Regions from separate parts of the Homo sapiens genome. Here region 2 is linked to region 1. Evidence: fine-mapped expression QTL. Tissue or cell type: whole blood. Region 1 holds a variant in brackets; the other region holds the start of a gene. All regions are shown on one strand. Distances are from middle to middle.

Region 1 (8,178 bases):
GAGGAGTGAGAGCAGGCTTCTGCTCCACCTGAGCTGGTTAGGGAGCTCAGGACGAAACTCTGAGCGGGGCAGTGTGGTATGTGATGATCCCAGAGTCTGAGGAAGAGTGTCCTAAGTTCCTCACACTCTATCTCCAGGAGGAACTACGATCGCAGTCCAGCTGCAACCAAACATGCATGTCTTCCCGCCGTGGCTGGCTGCTTTCTGTCTGCCCCTCCAGGCCTCTTGGTGTTGCAGAGGAGGGGGTAGGAGAGGGAAAGGGAACGGTTCCAGGTCACCTCTAAACCCTCTAGAAATGAAATGGGAATGAAGCAGGTCACAAACTCAGCATGCAGGGCTGGCTTCCCGGGAGGTAGATGGGAGTGGGACGGGATAGCAGGTGTGGAGAGGACAGGAAGGGAAACAGGAAGAAACTGAGCGACACCTGCCAGGAAGGTCAAGAAGCAATGAAAAGGACAAAGACAATATGAAATCTGCATGAAAAGACAGGTCCTTTTCTGGCAGATTAGAGAATCAACATTTTCAGTACAACTCATAACGCTACTTTCCTAACTGCAGTACCCGAGTCCCCAGCGCCTGTCTCTATGATCCAACCCCCATTTCACTGCTCCCAAGACTTTGCTCTCCATTTTATCAAGGCCTCCAATCATTTTGTGCTGAGTGTGAAGGCTCCAATGTGAAAGCAGGGTCTACCACAGGGACGTGCAGACTTGACCTTTGTGACCCAATCATTTTATAGCTATCGCAGCATAGGAGGGGGGCACACTTTTCTTTCTTTTTTTTTTCTTTTTCTTTTTTTAATAAAAAAGGTTTTACTCCCCAGGAGCAAATAAATCATTTTGAACTACTGATAAACACTGCTGCAGTGAAAAGAAAGATGGCTACATGTATGCAATAGCACAAATTCAGTGGAAGAACAGCTGTGTTGACGATTAGAGATAAAAATCACTTATCCATTCCCTCCTTTCCCACAAACCAAACCGAGGATTCCCATAGGGAAAATGTCTAACTCAATAGCTCCTCCCTTACATGACAGGGGGTGTGTCATTCTCTTAACAGTGGAAAACAAATGCCAGGTCTCCGCCCAGTGGAGATGCTCTTAACACCCTAACTGGTAGCAAGACTTCTGCAAATGAGGACACACACACACACACACATGCATGCATATGCACACACACAGACTCAGACCTCCTTCCAGCAGCCATAGAGCTTTATCCCAGTGTCTTGTCCACTAACTTTAGGGCTCCAAAGCTAAGGGAGCGAGGCAGCAGGGAAGGGAAAGATCTAACTGAAGGAAAAAGCTCCTCCTCGCCCCAGTTTCTGCAGGGAGCAGAGGGCTTCAAGCAGGCCATGCTTTCCTGGGGGCCCTGGGGTGAGGGCTGACACGGCTGGATTCCAGGGCACTTCTGGTTCTACTCCCACCTCTCACCCCTAGACCTAGGAACTATAATTACCCCCACTCCCTAATTCTTCCTGGATGTCTGTTACAGGGGTGTCTGCAGCTATCTCCACACCATCCCCAACCTCAAGGGGGGCTTACATCATTAGCCCAAGTGAAATGTAGGGAAGGGGAAGGAGCAGGAGCCATGCAGGAGTTTCCTTTGGCCACACCTTTCTCCTCAGGGAGGTGGCGCCACCTCCATGGCTCAGGTTCCAAGATGTAACATTCACTTGGCCTAGGCACAGGCAGGTGACCAGGCAAAGGTCAGCACCAATGGTCCCAAAGAGCCGGTTGCCACCCACTTACCTAGTGCCCACACCAAAACCCCCGCCCGCCTACTCCTGTGCTACCAACATAGCACACGAATTTCAAGTAACAGCAAGTTGTAGCAGTAGTTGTCACTGGCTCACAGCAGCTCACTCTCAACCTGAGGAAGGTTACAGTAGATCAGTCATAAACAGGTGAGGGTTATGCAGGCACTGAGGCCACTGATATCACCCACCCACAACTTAGGAATCAACAGTGGGTCCCTAGATGTAAGCCTTTTCCAATTTGTGACTTGAAAATACAACCAGAAAGAAATTATTTATTTTTTTTGAGATGGAGTCTCACTCTGTCGTCTAGGCTAGAGGGCAGTGGCGCAATCTCGGCTCAGTGCAACCTCCGCCTCCTGGGTTCAAGCAATTCTCCTGTCTCAGCCTCCCAAGTAGCTGGGACTACAGGCGCATGCCACCATGCCCAGCTAATTTTTGTATTTTAGTAGAGATAGGGTTTCACTGTTTGGCCAAGCTGGTCTTGAACTCCCGACCTCATGATCCACCCACCTCAGCCTCCCAAAGTGCTGGGATTACAGGCGTGAGCCACCGCGCCCAGACCTAGAAAGGAATACATTTAAATGAGCTCTGCACAGCACTGGCGAAGGAGGGACGGGCCTGGTCAGGGAGGTGAAGGGCAGGTGCTGCCACACCTGCTCCTCTGCTCCATTTACTCTCTGACCAGGCTGTATCCCAGAGAGCTGGCCCAGCCCCATGCCTCCCCCTCATCTTCCCCTAACTGCTCTGTGCAAGGCCACCCATGCAGGCACCAAACACCCACACCTGACGAAGACTGTCTCCTCTTGCGCTGCTGTTTTGCAGCCCACTCCACAGAGAAAGGACTAGGCTGCGGCCAGGGCTGGGACCAGTGCACTGACACAGACACAGTTCAACACGACACTCCCCAGGAGGAGAAAGGTGGGTGGTGAGGTTGGGTCACACCTCCTCAGTTGGTTTGTTTTGTACCTGAATGTATGAGTTCTCCAGAAGAAACCCCAGTAACACAGGGGGTGCAGAGGCTCTGCCTCCCTCACATGGCCTGAGCTGACCATAGTGAGGCCCTGGCAATGGGCAGGAGCCTTGCTGACTCCTTTGGGCTTTGGGCTCCACCTCACCATCATAACCCCTTGGCACTCAGGTCTGCCTGGTGGCTGGGAAGCTTCCATCTAGAAAACCGCACTGGAAAGGATTCTTTAACCATGTTGCTCTAACAGGGCTGTGCACTGTTCAGTACATGCCATGCAGATTTCTGCTTCCTTGCTTTTGCTCATGTGTTTTTCATCTCACTGTCTGTCCTGCCATTGACTACAACCCAAAGCCTCAGAGGCACAGAACTTTCCCAGACCATCTGGTCTACCCTGATCTTATCTACTATAAACGTCTTTAGATAGTCCTTGATTTTCTGCTTGATGTGCAGCAGTCACCTAAAAGCTCCCTTAGGCCACATATTACGTCTTTTACCTTTTTTGTTTTCTACAATATCTAGCGCAAAGCCAGGCACACACACACTAAAAAATAATATTAAAATTATGGGTGGTTGAAAAGGAACAAAAAAAAGAAAGATCCCAGGCTGTATATCAGCCACCCAAGGATCTCAACAGATTCCAACTTCAGGCTCTATATTGGGGTGGCACTTCCTGCAAGATGGCGAGTTATATTACTTGTACTCTCACGAGGCAACACTCACATGCTAAGCCAATTTCTGGGATCACAATCTTGCTTAGTTGATAATACTACCATGGAAGCCAAGGAAAGAAGAGGTACCACATGACAAATCAGAGGTGGGCTGTGTTTATGGTGCACAGCTCATCTTGTGGGCCACCCTTCCACAGTCAGGTAATGGTGCAAGTTTCCTCCCTGTTCAGCTACAAGGAGGAAGACTGGTCACTCCACGTGGGACTAAGGAAGAAGGCAATGCTCCCAGATGAGGCAGTCCTATAAATTACCAGGACACTGGGGCCCCACCCAAACCATCAGGAAGCCACAAACCTGACATTAGTATCTGTCTTGTGACACGAGGCAACTATAAGCATGGGGAACCCAGAAAGAGAGTCCCATGGAACACACGCAAAGGAGTCATGAAGACCCAACAGCTCCACTGTTACATCTCAATAGCAAACCTCTCCCCAGAGCAGCTCTATAAGAAAGCAAACTCACAATGTCATATGAATTGGCCATGGCCAGCTGCAGAAACCATTAAAGACC[A/G]TTGGAGTTTTTCTCCCCGCTCCTCCTGAAAGCAGGGACAGGCAGCTCTCAAATCGGCATCTGGCAGACTTTCCAGTGAGTGGAGACCAGCAGGATCTGATCCGGAAATGTCTGGGTTGCTAGAATGAACACAAGAAAATACAGAAGCCCTTGCTACCTCCCATCCCAGAAGTGGGATGGCAGTGATAAACCTAAAAACGTGAGATGCGATGCTCTCCTCTGACCTAAGGAAATCCCGTGAGGGCTGCGTTCTGAGAGCTTCCTCTAGGAAGAGCACAACTGTGGGAGCTGTATTTCTCACCTTCCTCCACATTCCCCCTCACAAGCTGACAGGCACATGGAAGTAACACTCACTCCTAAGTCATGAGTACAGTTTGCCATGAAGAACCTGGAAACATGCTCCATTAAATTCAGCAGCCCATGACTGGCTCTGAACCGCCCAGGTGATGGGAAACACGATTGCCATGACAGCTGGCAGAAGCAATAGGGATGCTGTTACCATGATCAGAGTGACATGTACAGTTATCTCAAGGGGCAATGGGTTGAGAGCAGAGGAAGAACGGGGTTAACTTCAGGTCATGGAACTTAAGGAATTAAGTAAATCACAACTAGTACAGCTTCCATGAGAGGTGTTTCTGAACTCAGGTTCCTAAACCTTAAAAAAGGATGCAGGAGTCACTACTTCTCCCAGCTAAGGCCAATTGGCTAGGTTTTGCCCAATATTCTTTTCGAGACCACCCACCCTCCTTTCTCTCCTGCTCCTACAACAGCTGCCCATGGCAACAAGAGGCAGATTCCCCCTTCCTCAGGAACTCCCAGTCCTTTGCAAACCTCAAGCCCCTCCTCCCATCTTCCAGGCCCACAGCACAGACTCTAACTCTGCCTTTGGCACCAGCTGAATGGCCGTCCCCTGTTCCCTCCTCCCACCCCTTCTTTGGACCTGCTCACCCTTCGCACCACTTTCAATCCAACGGGCACAAACCCCAACTGCCTTCAAGGTGAGTTTTCCATACCAAGTAATATAAATATCAAAAACAAAACTTCTGAAAAAGAAACAGTGTTGAGACTTCTTCCAGTTTTCCAAGGAGCCCCTCCAGTCCTAAGATGCCCAGGGGTGGGTGTGAGGTGGAGCCCCACGCAGAGTACGGTCATGTGCTTCTTCCAAGCCCCAGGGCTGCGTGGGGAACCAAAGTCTCTGCACAGAGAATCCCAACCTTCCTGTTCCCTCACTTTTCCTCTTCTTTTCATGGTAGCTTAATTTGGTTCTTCAAAGCTGGAGCTTGGCAACCAAATGCCTAGGTAGAAAAGGAAAAAAAATTAAAACAGTTCAACAGAATAGAACCAAAATGGAGTGAAATAACAGCCAGCCACTGGAGGTGGAGCAGCACACCTCAAAAGGAGAACGGAGCCTGGAGAGCTGAACGCTTCCATGAGGGCCACATGTGACTAGGGATGCAGCAGTGGCCTTTGTCAGGGGGACCTGAGCAGCCTATGACTTGGATGACAAAACAAGGTCCTGAAATAACTAATAAATACATCCTACCACATTGCATAAATTCTCTCTTTCCCTTTCCCTTACCCCTTCATTTCCTACCCATTTTTTCCCTGAGGCTCAATTGCTCTAGGGACTGAAAAGGGAAGTAAGCCCCTGGAGTAACCCCTTTTGAACCTGGCAAGAAAGAGCTCTATATTTCTTTCTTTCTTTTTTTTTTTTTTTTTTGAGACGGAGTCTCGCTCTGTCACCCAGGCTGGAGTGCAAAGGCATGATCTTGGCTCACTGCAATCTCCACTTCCTGGGTTCAAGATTCTCCTGTCTCAGCCTCCCAAGTAGCTGGGATTACAGGCATGCGCCACCATGCCTGGCTAATTTTGTATTTTTAGTAGAGACAGGGTTTCACCATGTTGGCCAGGCTGGTCTCAAACTCCTGACCTCGTGATGAGCCCGCCTTGGCCTCCCAAACTGCTGGGATTACAGACGTGAACCATCACACCTGGCCAGAGAGCTCTGTATTTCTGCAGCTTCTGTCAACTGGACAGGGTTGACACAGAAACACAAAGGCCACTGTTGCTTCCACCTTCCGACTTGAGACAGGCACTGTTCTAGCCATTACTCTATAGTCTGACTCCAAACCCCCTGGCATGAAATTCCCCAGGTAACAGCACACATAGACCAAGCAGGCCATTCAGAACTCCCAAATTAAAATCAGCCTGAACAACAAGAAGTCATAAAGGCCAAATTTCATACCCTAAAGACCTTTCCCAATGGGGCACAGTGGCTCATGCCTGTAATCCCAGAACTTTGGGAGGCCAAGGTGGGTGGATCACTTGAGTGAGGTCAGGAGTTTGAGACCCAACTGACAAACGTGGTGAAACCCAGTCTACTAAAAATACAAAATTAGCCAGGCGTGGTGGTGCACACCTGTAATCCCAGCCTCCCACTGGGAGGCTGAGGTGGGAGAATTGCTTGAACCCGGGAGATGGAGGTTGCAGTGAGCCAAGATCACGCCATTGCACTCCAGCCCGGGCAACAAGAGCGAAACTCCATCTCAAAAAAAAAAAAAAAAAAGACCTTTCCCTTGGGAAGTGTTACTTCCTCCCTTTCCAGGGCTCCTAGGGTCTACACCAGGAGCAAGTTCAGCATTACGCTTACTCTTTGTCACAGGCATCAATACTGATGTCACAGCAAAAAGGGATCCTGGGAGTTCAGTTCAAACCTTCGCCAATATATGACTGCCCCCAACACTCAAGACAAATGGCTACCCACTGGCCTGTTCCTGATCATGCCACGTCCTTCCCAGCTGAGGCAGGGCCTTTATACCTCTAGGTCCCCTTGCCCAGAATGCTCTGCTCCAAGGCACTCCCATGGCTGGCTCCTTGATATTTGGGTATCGGCTGAAATGGCACCTCCTCACAAGTCTCTCCCTGACCATCTAAACTTGAGGAGTATCCCACCACTAATCACTAAACTTTACCCAGTTTTACTTTCCTCACAACACTGTACAGTCACCTGAAATTAGCCCATTCATTTATGTTCATGTTTGCTGCCTGTCTTTCCTTAGGAGAAGGGAAGCTGAGTGAAAACAGGGCCTTTGCTTTGCTCAGCACTCTATTCTCAATTCATACTGGGTGCCAAATAAACACAAATATACAGCTATCTGCTGAATGGAAGCTCTTGAGGAAAACCATCCCAGTTTTGGACCTCTCTGTTAAAAAGGTTCTTGTAAAGTTGGACTGAAATCTAGTTCCTTGTAACTTACATTCATTTTGGTCCTTATCCATGTCTCTTTTTGCTGTGACATGGGAGGGCCTTGGGGCAGAGCATTCTGGGCAAGGGGACCTAGAGGTATAAAGGCCCTGCCTCAACTGGGAAAGGTGTGGCATGATCAGGAACAGGCCGGCAGGGAGCCACTTGTCTTGAGTGTTGGGAGCAGTCATGCACTGGCAAAGGTTTGAACTGAACTCTCAGGATCTCTTTTTGCTGTGACATCAGGATTGTTGCCTGTGGCAAAGAATAAGCGTAATGCTGAACTTGCTCCCCACTGGAACCACAGAGAGGAGGTTAATCACTCTCTTCCTTAGGAAAACCCATCAAATGCATCTTTCAGCTATCCCTCCCTAAAACCTCCGTGCTCTGGGTTAATCACATTTCTTTCTAGGCCATTTATTCCCATATGATGAAGTTTGAGCTCTCCAATGCCACAAGGCCTTTCTCTGAACATGCTCCCTGTTTATATGGGTTCTTCTACAGCACTGCACCCACAGACGTGGTCCTCTAACTGAATGGCCTAATTACTCTTCAAGGGTAGTCAGGTAGGTGGACCTCCCTAGTGCTCTACCTCTCACCCTAATCTCAACTGCAAAGCCATCATGCAGAGAAATCCACCTAGACACAAGACATTAGATATTTAGTCATTTCCAAAGGCATACAATTTGCATATAATTGAAGACATGATGAGACTGTACATCTACTCCAGGATCCACACCAGAAGAAAGCAGTCACTGCACACTGGCAGTCAATCTTGCTTGTCACCACCACCACCAAAGTCATGGCTCCCTGGCAATTGTGTTCCCTACTCAGGAACTTGGCCCCACAATGTTCACTTTAGTGCAATTTAAAAGACTAATTGGAATTCATCTGCACAAACCAGTATTGCAAGATGTTTTATGGGAAAATAAATGGGTAGAACTGTGTAATGATGGGAGAAGAGCCTCGTAGAT
Region 2 (8,178 bases), 49 kb after region 1:
AGAAGAATCGCTTGAACCCGGGAAGCAGAGGTTGCAGTAAGCCAAGATCGCACCACTGCACTCCAGCCTGGGCGACAGAGCAAGACTCCACCTCAAAACAAAAAACAAAACAAAAAGACTTCTCTAAGCTAACTCATACCACACTGAAGACAATATATCCAGGTAGGTCCACTTACCAGACTCAAAAGCAACTAAAAGGAAGTTTTGCTTAGTGCTAAAATGTGGGAATTGTTAAACCTTCTAAAATGATTGTAGGAAGGCAGATGTTGGGAATAGCAAAGGGAATTATGCCCAGAGGTTACTGCAAAAGCCCCAAATTATACAGCAAAGACTATAGAAGCCCATAATTAACTCCAATCAACAATGAGGACAAAGGCATATACCCTTTGGCAAAAGACTGAAATTTCTCACCATTTCCAGGTCCTACCAATCAAAACAAGAGAACAAGCTAAAAATCCAAACTCATCCTCCCACTATTGCGGACTTAGGAGGTGCAGATCCACAGAAATCACAACTACCCTGGCCAGACTCACCAAGTTTCTCACAGCTGCGAGGCTGCCAGCAAGACTGGCACATAGTAAGCTGTCGAAAAGCTCACAAGCAGCACCAAATCCTAAGCATTAAAAAATTTACCAGCTCAGTCCTATTACTTATCTTCTAAAAAGCACAAAATATTCCATCTAGATTTCTCTTCTCAACAATCTACTCTTATAAGGACAGGAACAAGACAGTCAACGCTCACCCATTTTACAGATGGGGGAAAAAGGGAAGCATGAAGGTGACAAATTTGGTCATCTCCTAGCTGATGTTGGAGTTTACACGGAATCTAGACTTTCACATTCTCTATACAGCATGCTGCCTCCAAACAGCAGTCAACCAAACGTTTATACACAAATAACTAGCTCTTCTCCAATTCATCAAAAAAAGCCCTTGGACCAAAAAATGTAATTCTCCAGTGCCCTGAACTAAGCTTCTTTGCAAAGCTACAGCCCAATTTGCTCTGCAGCAGAAATCTGTATTGTGCTTAGTGTGAGGGTTGGTGACAGAGCAGCCAATGACCATTAAATTCTGCTTCCAAAGGCAAAAAACCGTATAATGTCATATGCCTTTTCCTCTTCCTAATCTATTAGACGTAGCAGCTAATTTCACGCCACACCTCGTATTTGGCGTCTCTGGAATCTCAGACGAACTCCTGGTCAATATGGAACAAAGGCAAGACAAACCACAAGAAAATTAGCAATCTATCCTATGTCATTACCCATAGCTTTAATCCCGCCCTCCCCTGCATCTGATGAAAATTTCATCTGTGCTGGTAAGTGGAGCATCGAATACAGAGCCTACCACAAAAAAAGCTGTTTCAGCAGCCACCCACTTTTCAAGATCTGAACTCCCAGCATGAATTCACTGGGAGGCAAAGCAGAAACACTGGCCTACCTAAAGGGACAACACACTGATTTCTTTAGAAAGTTTGGATTTGGCCTCATCCCCAAGATAAGCCCATGGCACAGCTGTTCAGAAAGGGCAAGAAAGCCAAATCCACCCAACATTTTCTTGTTGGAGTACCCAAGTTCCCTTGAAAACAGAAGTCTATGGATGAGTGGTTCCCAGTTCAGGATCAACTGGGGAGCTTTTAAAAAGTTCAAACTCTTAGGCTTTTCAAAAAGCTCCCCAAGTGATCTTAGTTCACAGTAAGGTTATCAATTTATACCTGTTCTTTAGCTTTGGTTTATGGCTGCCAGTATGTCTCAAGAATCCATCACGTAAACCACAACAAAACCCATTCCAATCTTTCTGAGAACCCAAAGAAGTACAAACCACAATGGCAGTTACTACAAGGTAACTAATTTCACTGACACCAAAGTTGACAGCTTTGTAAACCAACGCTACAGATGTAACACTGGATGCCGAAGATCAGTCCACCCCTCAGAAATGCAGGAAAAAAACTCAACGTCTATGTTTGGAATTTTCATCAATCGGCCTAGAACTCATGTACCTGTCTCTACCTTGTCTATATCTTACTGGTACTTAGAATTCTCAAAAGGCTTTGAGAGAGCGCAAAGCTATTTTCTCGAGACAGGCTCTCACTCTGTCACGCAAGCTGGAGTGCAGTGGCACGATCACTATTCACTGCAACCTCCGCCTCCTGGGCTCAAGTGATCCTCCTGCCTCAGCCTCCCGAGTAGCTGGGACCACTCCCGCCTAATTTTTTGTATTTTTTTCGTAGAGATGGGGGCTAATTTTTTGTTTGTTTGTTTTGTAGAGATGGGGTTTCGCATGTTGCCCAGGCTGGTCTCAAACTCCTGAGCTCAGGTGATCCGCCCTCCTCGGCCTCCCAAAGTGCTGGGATTACAGGTGTGAGCCACTGTGCCCGGTCTGCTATTTTCTATTCTCAGAGACAGTGGTCAGCACCCAAGTTTGATATGCCAAGTTCATCTAAGGGAACAACCAGGAAAACAGTAAAACTTTGAATAGAGGTGTCCAATTGATTGCTGGCCTACAATTGCATTTGAAGATTCTCCTGTCATTTGCATGCATGAGTGTGAAGGGAGGTGCGGTGCTGGTACACAGAATAAGCAAGGCGGTCAAGGTGCAACACCAGCTTTTTGCCCCAAAGGCCAAACACTTCCAGCAATCTCCCTTCCAGGGACAATGGCACACAGCCGCCTTGGAAAAACTTAAAAAGCCATGCCAGGATGGGGATGGGAGGATGGTCTGAAACCATCTTCCAACAAGACAGATGCAAACCAGCTGAGAAGTGTCACGGAGTGTGCACTCTTTAAGAGTGAAAGCTGTTTCCACAATTAGCGCTGACCTTATGCGAGATGTTACCACCTTTGGTCCCAAGTCTCTGCCTCCTCCTGAAGACCCTATCTTAAGAACTGTCAGGATCGCGATAGCAATAGATAAAAAGGGAAACCAAACAAGAAAAGGAAGTTTGTCGGCCAGCCCCCGGCCGGTCTCACCTCCCCGCGTCCAGCTCCCGGCCCGCAGAGCCTCCCATGTCTGTCAGGCTCGCAGCTGAAGCAGCCAGCTCTCCAGAAGGCCTCTTGCCGGTCCCATCCCCACCGCCGGAGCCACCGTTGCAGCTCTTGGTGCGAAAGAGGCGACTGAGGCGGATTTTGAAGGAGCCCTTCCGAGAAGGACCCGCGAGTGGCCGGAGGGGCCCGGGAGGAGGCGGGGGCGGGGGAGGTTGCTGCTGCTGCTGCTGCTGCTGCTCCCCTCTACTCAGGCGCCCCAGAGGGACCAAGTCCTGCAGCGGGAAGGGCACCGGAGGTAATTCAGGGCCTGGGGGCTGCAGCAGAAGCCGGCCGCCCCCTCCTCCTCCGCGACCCGGGCTGCTGAGCTCCTCTTCCGAGCAGCTGTTAGTCTCCAGGCTCTCGGCCTCCGATTCCAAGCCCTCCAGGACCAGCAGCGCGTCGCTCGTTTCCGTGGGGTCCTCCCCGGCCTGCGGGGCGGCAGCAGGCGGCTGGGGCTGCGGAGGGGGCGGCTGAGGAGGACACGGACACGGGCAGCAACCCCCACCGACTGTCTTGACCCCCGGCCCCGCCGGCTGCCCGAGCCCCAGAGCCGCCAACTGCGCCTCTAGTCCAGCCGCCGGGCCCCAGGTCCGCTCGAGCGCCAAGCCCGGCGGCAGGGCCTTGGGGTCCAGGGCACAGCGGTGCCGGGGACACAGCAGTTCCGAGGGTCCCGGCTCCGGGGCCGCCTCCACGTCCTCCTCCTCCGGCGGCCGACCCACGTTGCGGAACACCATCAGCTGCGGCGGCCGGGAGCCCCGCGGGCCGGGCCGCGCGAGGAAGGGTGGCGGCGGGGGGCCATGGCCCGGGGGCGGTGGCGGAGGGCCTGGCTCGGGGGCCGCCTCTCCATAGCCAAGGAGGCGGCTCAGGACGCGGTACGAAGCGGCCGCCGCCGCCGCCTCGCCATCCCGGAGCTCGGCCTCCTGCATCGGGGAGAGGGAGGGAGGGCGGGCGGCTGGGAGCCGGGCTGGGGTGGGGACTAGGCCGGGCCCCGCCGGAGCCCCGCCCGCCGCGGCCCCCGGAGCGACAGCGCTAACGGCCGCCGCGGCCTCTGCCTCATAGAGGGGGGCGGGGGGCGCGCGGAGCCCAGCGCGAGCCCAGGCCGCGCTCCGCCACCGCCGAGCACCGCCCCCAAGCCGACGTCACTTCCGGAAGGGCTTAGCCACGCCACTTTCCCCAGGGCGTGCTCGCGCTGGCCTCCACGGCGAGTGACGCCGCGCGCGCCCCCGGCCCCTATTGGCGGTGAGCTGTCTGTTGGCTGGCGTTGGTCTCTTTTCCCGGTCCTTGCTTTTCACTTCCTGGGCGCCCAGGCCCAGGCCATCCCATTCGGTAGAGTGGAGAGGCCTTGGAAACCATGGTCTGGTCCTGGGAGCGCGCCGCTGGCCTTGGGAGCACATATGGTTCTGCCATCTACGCCGCTTGCGATGTGTGACCTTGGCTGAGTCATTTCATCATTAATCTGTATCTCCGTCCGCCTGGCACCCAGTGAATGTTTGTGGAATCAGTACATGAATCGTGTTCTAGACCCAGTGCTGTACTGATAAATGTGTAACAACCAGCTCTCTGGGGGGAGAACGGGAATGTATGCACATATATAGGTACAAAAATTTGTCGTTAAGTTTTACTGACATAAAGGATGTGTAGTTCACAATTTACAATTAATAGTAAATTGGCAAATTCCATATAACTCTTTCTCACAGAATGCTTTCATTGATTTTTGCCAAACTCTTATATGGGTAGCCAAACTGTGATTGCAGTTGACCTAGGAGTGTAATTGTAAAGGTGAATGTTGGTTGATAAAACTGAAAAAGACAAAACTTAATTGGATTGTCAATGATGGGAGCAACTTCTTTGCTGAGTCAGAAAACGGTTTCAAATACTGGAAGAATATTTACTCAATTTTTGTGCTATTCATAATGTAACGGCTACAGACAACACATTAAGTTTTTGCTGTTGTTGAGATGGAATCTTTCTCTATTGCCCAGGCTGGAGTGCAATGGCGCTATCTTGGCTCACTGCAACCTCTGCCTCCCGGGTTCAAGCAATTCTCCTGCCTCGCTCCAGGTAATTTTTTGTATTCTTAGTAGAGACAGGGTTTCACCATGTTGGCCAGGCCAGTTTTGAACTCCTGACCTCAGGTGATCCACCCGCCTTGGCCTCCCAAAATGCTGGGATTACAGGCGTGAGCCACCGCGCCCACGCCCGGCCTTCTTATCTTTACACAGGGATAAGGATTGCAATTTTGCTTGCTTGCAGGCATGTTGTGAGGATCAAATAAGATCAAGCTTTTTGTGTGGAGGAGGTGAGACTGGAGGCAGGGAGCCCATTGAAATAGTCCCAGTGGGAGATATTGAGAGATGCAAGGGAAAAGGAGGAAGGATCAGCTGCAGAACTCAGTGACTTCTAATACCTGAGGGTGCATTGAGGGGAAGAGGGTGGAGGGTTGAGTCCTGCAACCAGAGGGACCTTTTCAGAATGGAAATGTGTTCATAGCCTGTGATTAAAATTGTTCATGGCTTCCCATTGTTCTTAGGCTAATGTGTGATCTTGTGATCTGACCCCTGTGTGATCTAACCCCTGCCTCTCTAGCCACATCCCCTGCTAAGCTCCACCTTGTTCTCTGTTCCCTGCATTCCCATCAACCTTGCGGCAGGCTCCCATACATGTGGGCAAGAAAAGCTATTCCCTTTTCTTGCAAGACTTTTCTCTTTTTGCTTAGTAAACTCCTACTCATCCTTCAGATTGAACTCACTCCTCACTACCTTAGGGAAATCTCCCTGCCTGGGCCCTTCCTCCTCCCCAGGCTCTGAGATCATTCCTTTGTTGCACTTACTTGCGCAGGTGTAATTTGCAATCTGTCTGTGGGGTCAGTTGATTAAAAGCTGTCCTCCCTACAAAACTGTAAATTCTATGAGGGCAGAAGCCATGTTTGCTTTTTGCCCCTTGGGGACTCTCCAGTGCCAAGGACAGTGCCTGGAATTGTTGTTCAACCTTAAGCCCTGTAAGAGTCTCCTGAGACAAATTCTGCACAACAGAATTAATTATCTTTCCTCACACATAAAGAGACAAAGTAAACCTCAGTGAGTTATTTAGCTAAAGTCACTCAATTCAAAAGGATGCAGTGAAAATCAAAACCAGCTCTGACTCCAGATAGTTCATTCTCTTCCCCTGGCTGCCTCTCAGGTGTCACTCAGGTTTCTGAAGAAAAGAAGAGCGATTGAGAGGGGCATGTTTACCCACGTCTGTAATTCCAGCGCTTGGGGAGGCCAAGGCAGGTCTTGGATCACTTGAGGCCAGGAGTTTAAGGCCAGCCAGGGCAACATAGCAACACTCTGGCTCTACAACAAATGTTAAAATTAGCCAGGCATGGTGGTGTGCCCAGATGTGGTCTCAGCTACTCAGGAGGCTGAGGCAGGAGGATTGCTTGAGCCCAGGAGGTGGAGACTGCAGTGAGCTGTGATCACACCACTGCACTCTAGCCTGGGTGACAGAGCAAGACCGTGTCTCTATATAGATAAATGAATAAAAGAAGAGAAATTGCTATAGAATCACACAACACCTGAGGCCTAAGAAGACTACCCAAGATCCCCAGCTTTCTCTCTGAGAAACTCTCTGGCCTCAGAGCCCATTACAAGCTGATTACAGGCAAGGTCCCTGGCTCTTCATCGCCCTCTGCTGTCCAGCTGCTTTCCTGGCCGTGGGAGAAGAGGACTGTGTGGGTTATCTGGAGTATCTCTACTTGCACGGAGTGCACAGAGGTACAGAGGAACACACGCGAGCTCTTTCTAAGGCAGGGCAAGCCATGGGGTAGACTTTTCCCATTTCCATAATTGTCCATTTCCGTAGCCCAGATCCTGGAAAAAACATTGAAAGTTAAATTCCAAGCAAAGAGGGTGTATCTTTGCATTTGTAGGACTTGAATTTGTGTTGGGGGTTGTTTGTTTGTTTTGAGACAGCATTTCATTCTTTTGTGTTTTTGTTTGTTTGTTTTGTTTTGTTTTTTTAGACGGAATTTTGCTCTTGTTGCCCAGGCTGGAGTGCAATGGCGCTATCTTGGCTCACTGCAACCTCTGCCTGCCAGGTTCAAGCGATTCTCCTGCCTCAGCCTCCCAAGTAGCTGGGATTACAGGCATGCGCCACCACGCCTAGCTAATTTTGTATTTTTAGTAGAGACAGAGTTTCTCCATGTTGGTCAGGCTCATCTCGATCTCCCAACCTCATTGATCTGCCTGCCTCAGCCTCCCGAAGTGCTGGGATTACAGGCGTGAGCCACGGCGCCCGGCCTCAGAGTTTCATTCTTGTTTCCCAGGCTGGAGTGCATAGGTATGATCTCGGCTCACTGCAACCTCTGCCTCCTGCGTTCAAGCAATTCTCCTGCCTCAGCCTCCTGAGTAGCTGAGATTACCGGCGCATGCCACCAGGCCCAGCTAATTTTTTTGTTTTTAGTAGAGACAGGGTTCCGCCATGTTGGCCAGGCTGGTCTCAAACTCCTGACCTCAATTGATCCACCTGCCTCAGCTTCCCAAAGTGTTGGGATTACAGGTGTGAGCCACTGCGCCCTGCCAAATTTATGTTTATTGAGCTGATTTTATGTTTAAATATACCTCTTTCACTGAGCACTATAAAAGTGGTCCTCAGCCGAGCGTGGTGGCTCAAGCCTATAATCCCAGCACTTTGGGAGGCCAAGGTAGGCGGATCACTTTAGCCTGGGAGTTTGTGACCAGGTTGGGCAACAAAGAGACCCAATGTTGTGAGGATGTCGTGAGACCTCGTCTCTACAAAAAATAAAAAAAAAATAGTTGGGCGTGGTGGCGTGCACCTGTAATCCCAGCTACTCAGGAGGCTGAGGCAGGAGAATCACTTGAGCCCAGGGGTCAGAAGTGGAGTGAGCTGTGTTCATGCCACTGCACCCCTGCCTGGGTGACAGAGTGAGAGACCCTGTCTCAAAAAAGTAAAACAGAAAATAAGGTGGGCACAGTGGCTCACGCCTATAATCACAACACTTTGGGAGGTTGAAGTGGGCGGATCACTTGAGCCCAGGAGTTTGAGACCAGCCAGGGCAGTAAGGCAAAACCCCATCTCTATTCCCACCGCCAAAAAAAAAATATATATATATATATATATATTTACCTGGGCATGATGGCACGCACCTGTAGTCTCAGCT

The links. PIP is the estimated chance that this variant, and not a neighbour inherited with it, causes the effect.
Region 2: SOCS7 starts here. The variant in region 1 is fine-mapped to the expression of SOCS7 in whole blood (TOPMed, PIP above 0.99).

The regions. Positions count from the first base shown.
Region 1 is chr17:38,396,590-38,404,767 of GRCh38, reverse strand. SOCS7 (suppressor of cytokine signaling 7) reads right to left here. Exons shown (of 10, transcript NM_014598.4): 10 at 1-5,255. Among named protein-coding and RNA genes, the nearest start is that of ARHGAP23, 28 kb to the left of the region's middle. The variant A/G (reference allele first, on the strand shown) is at 3,961.
Region 2 is chr17:38,347,818-38,355,995 of GRCh38, reverse strand. It overlaps SOCS7 (suppressor of cytokine signaling 7), which reads right to left and starts at 4,152. Exons shown (of 10, transcript NM_014598.4): 1 at 2,964-4,152. The coding sequence starts at 3,943. LOC124903991 (a long non-coding RNA gene) reads left to right here and starts at 5,000. Exons shown (of 2, transcript XR_007065738.1): 1 at 5,000-5,078; 2 at 5,271-5,537.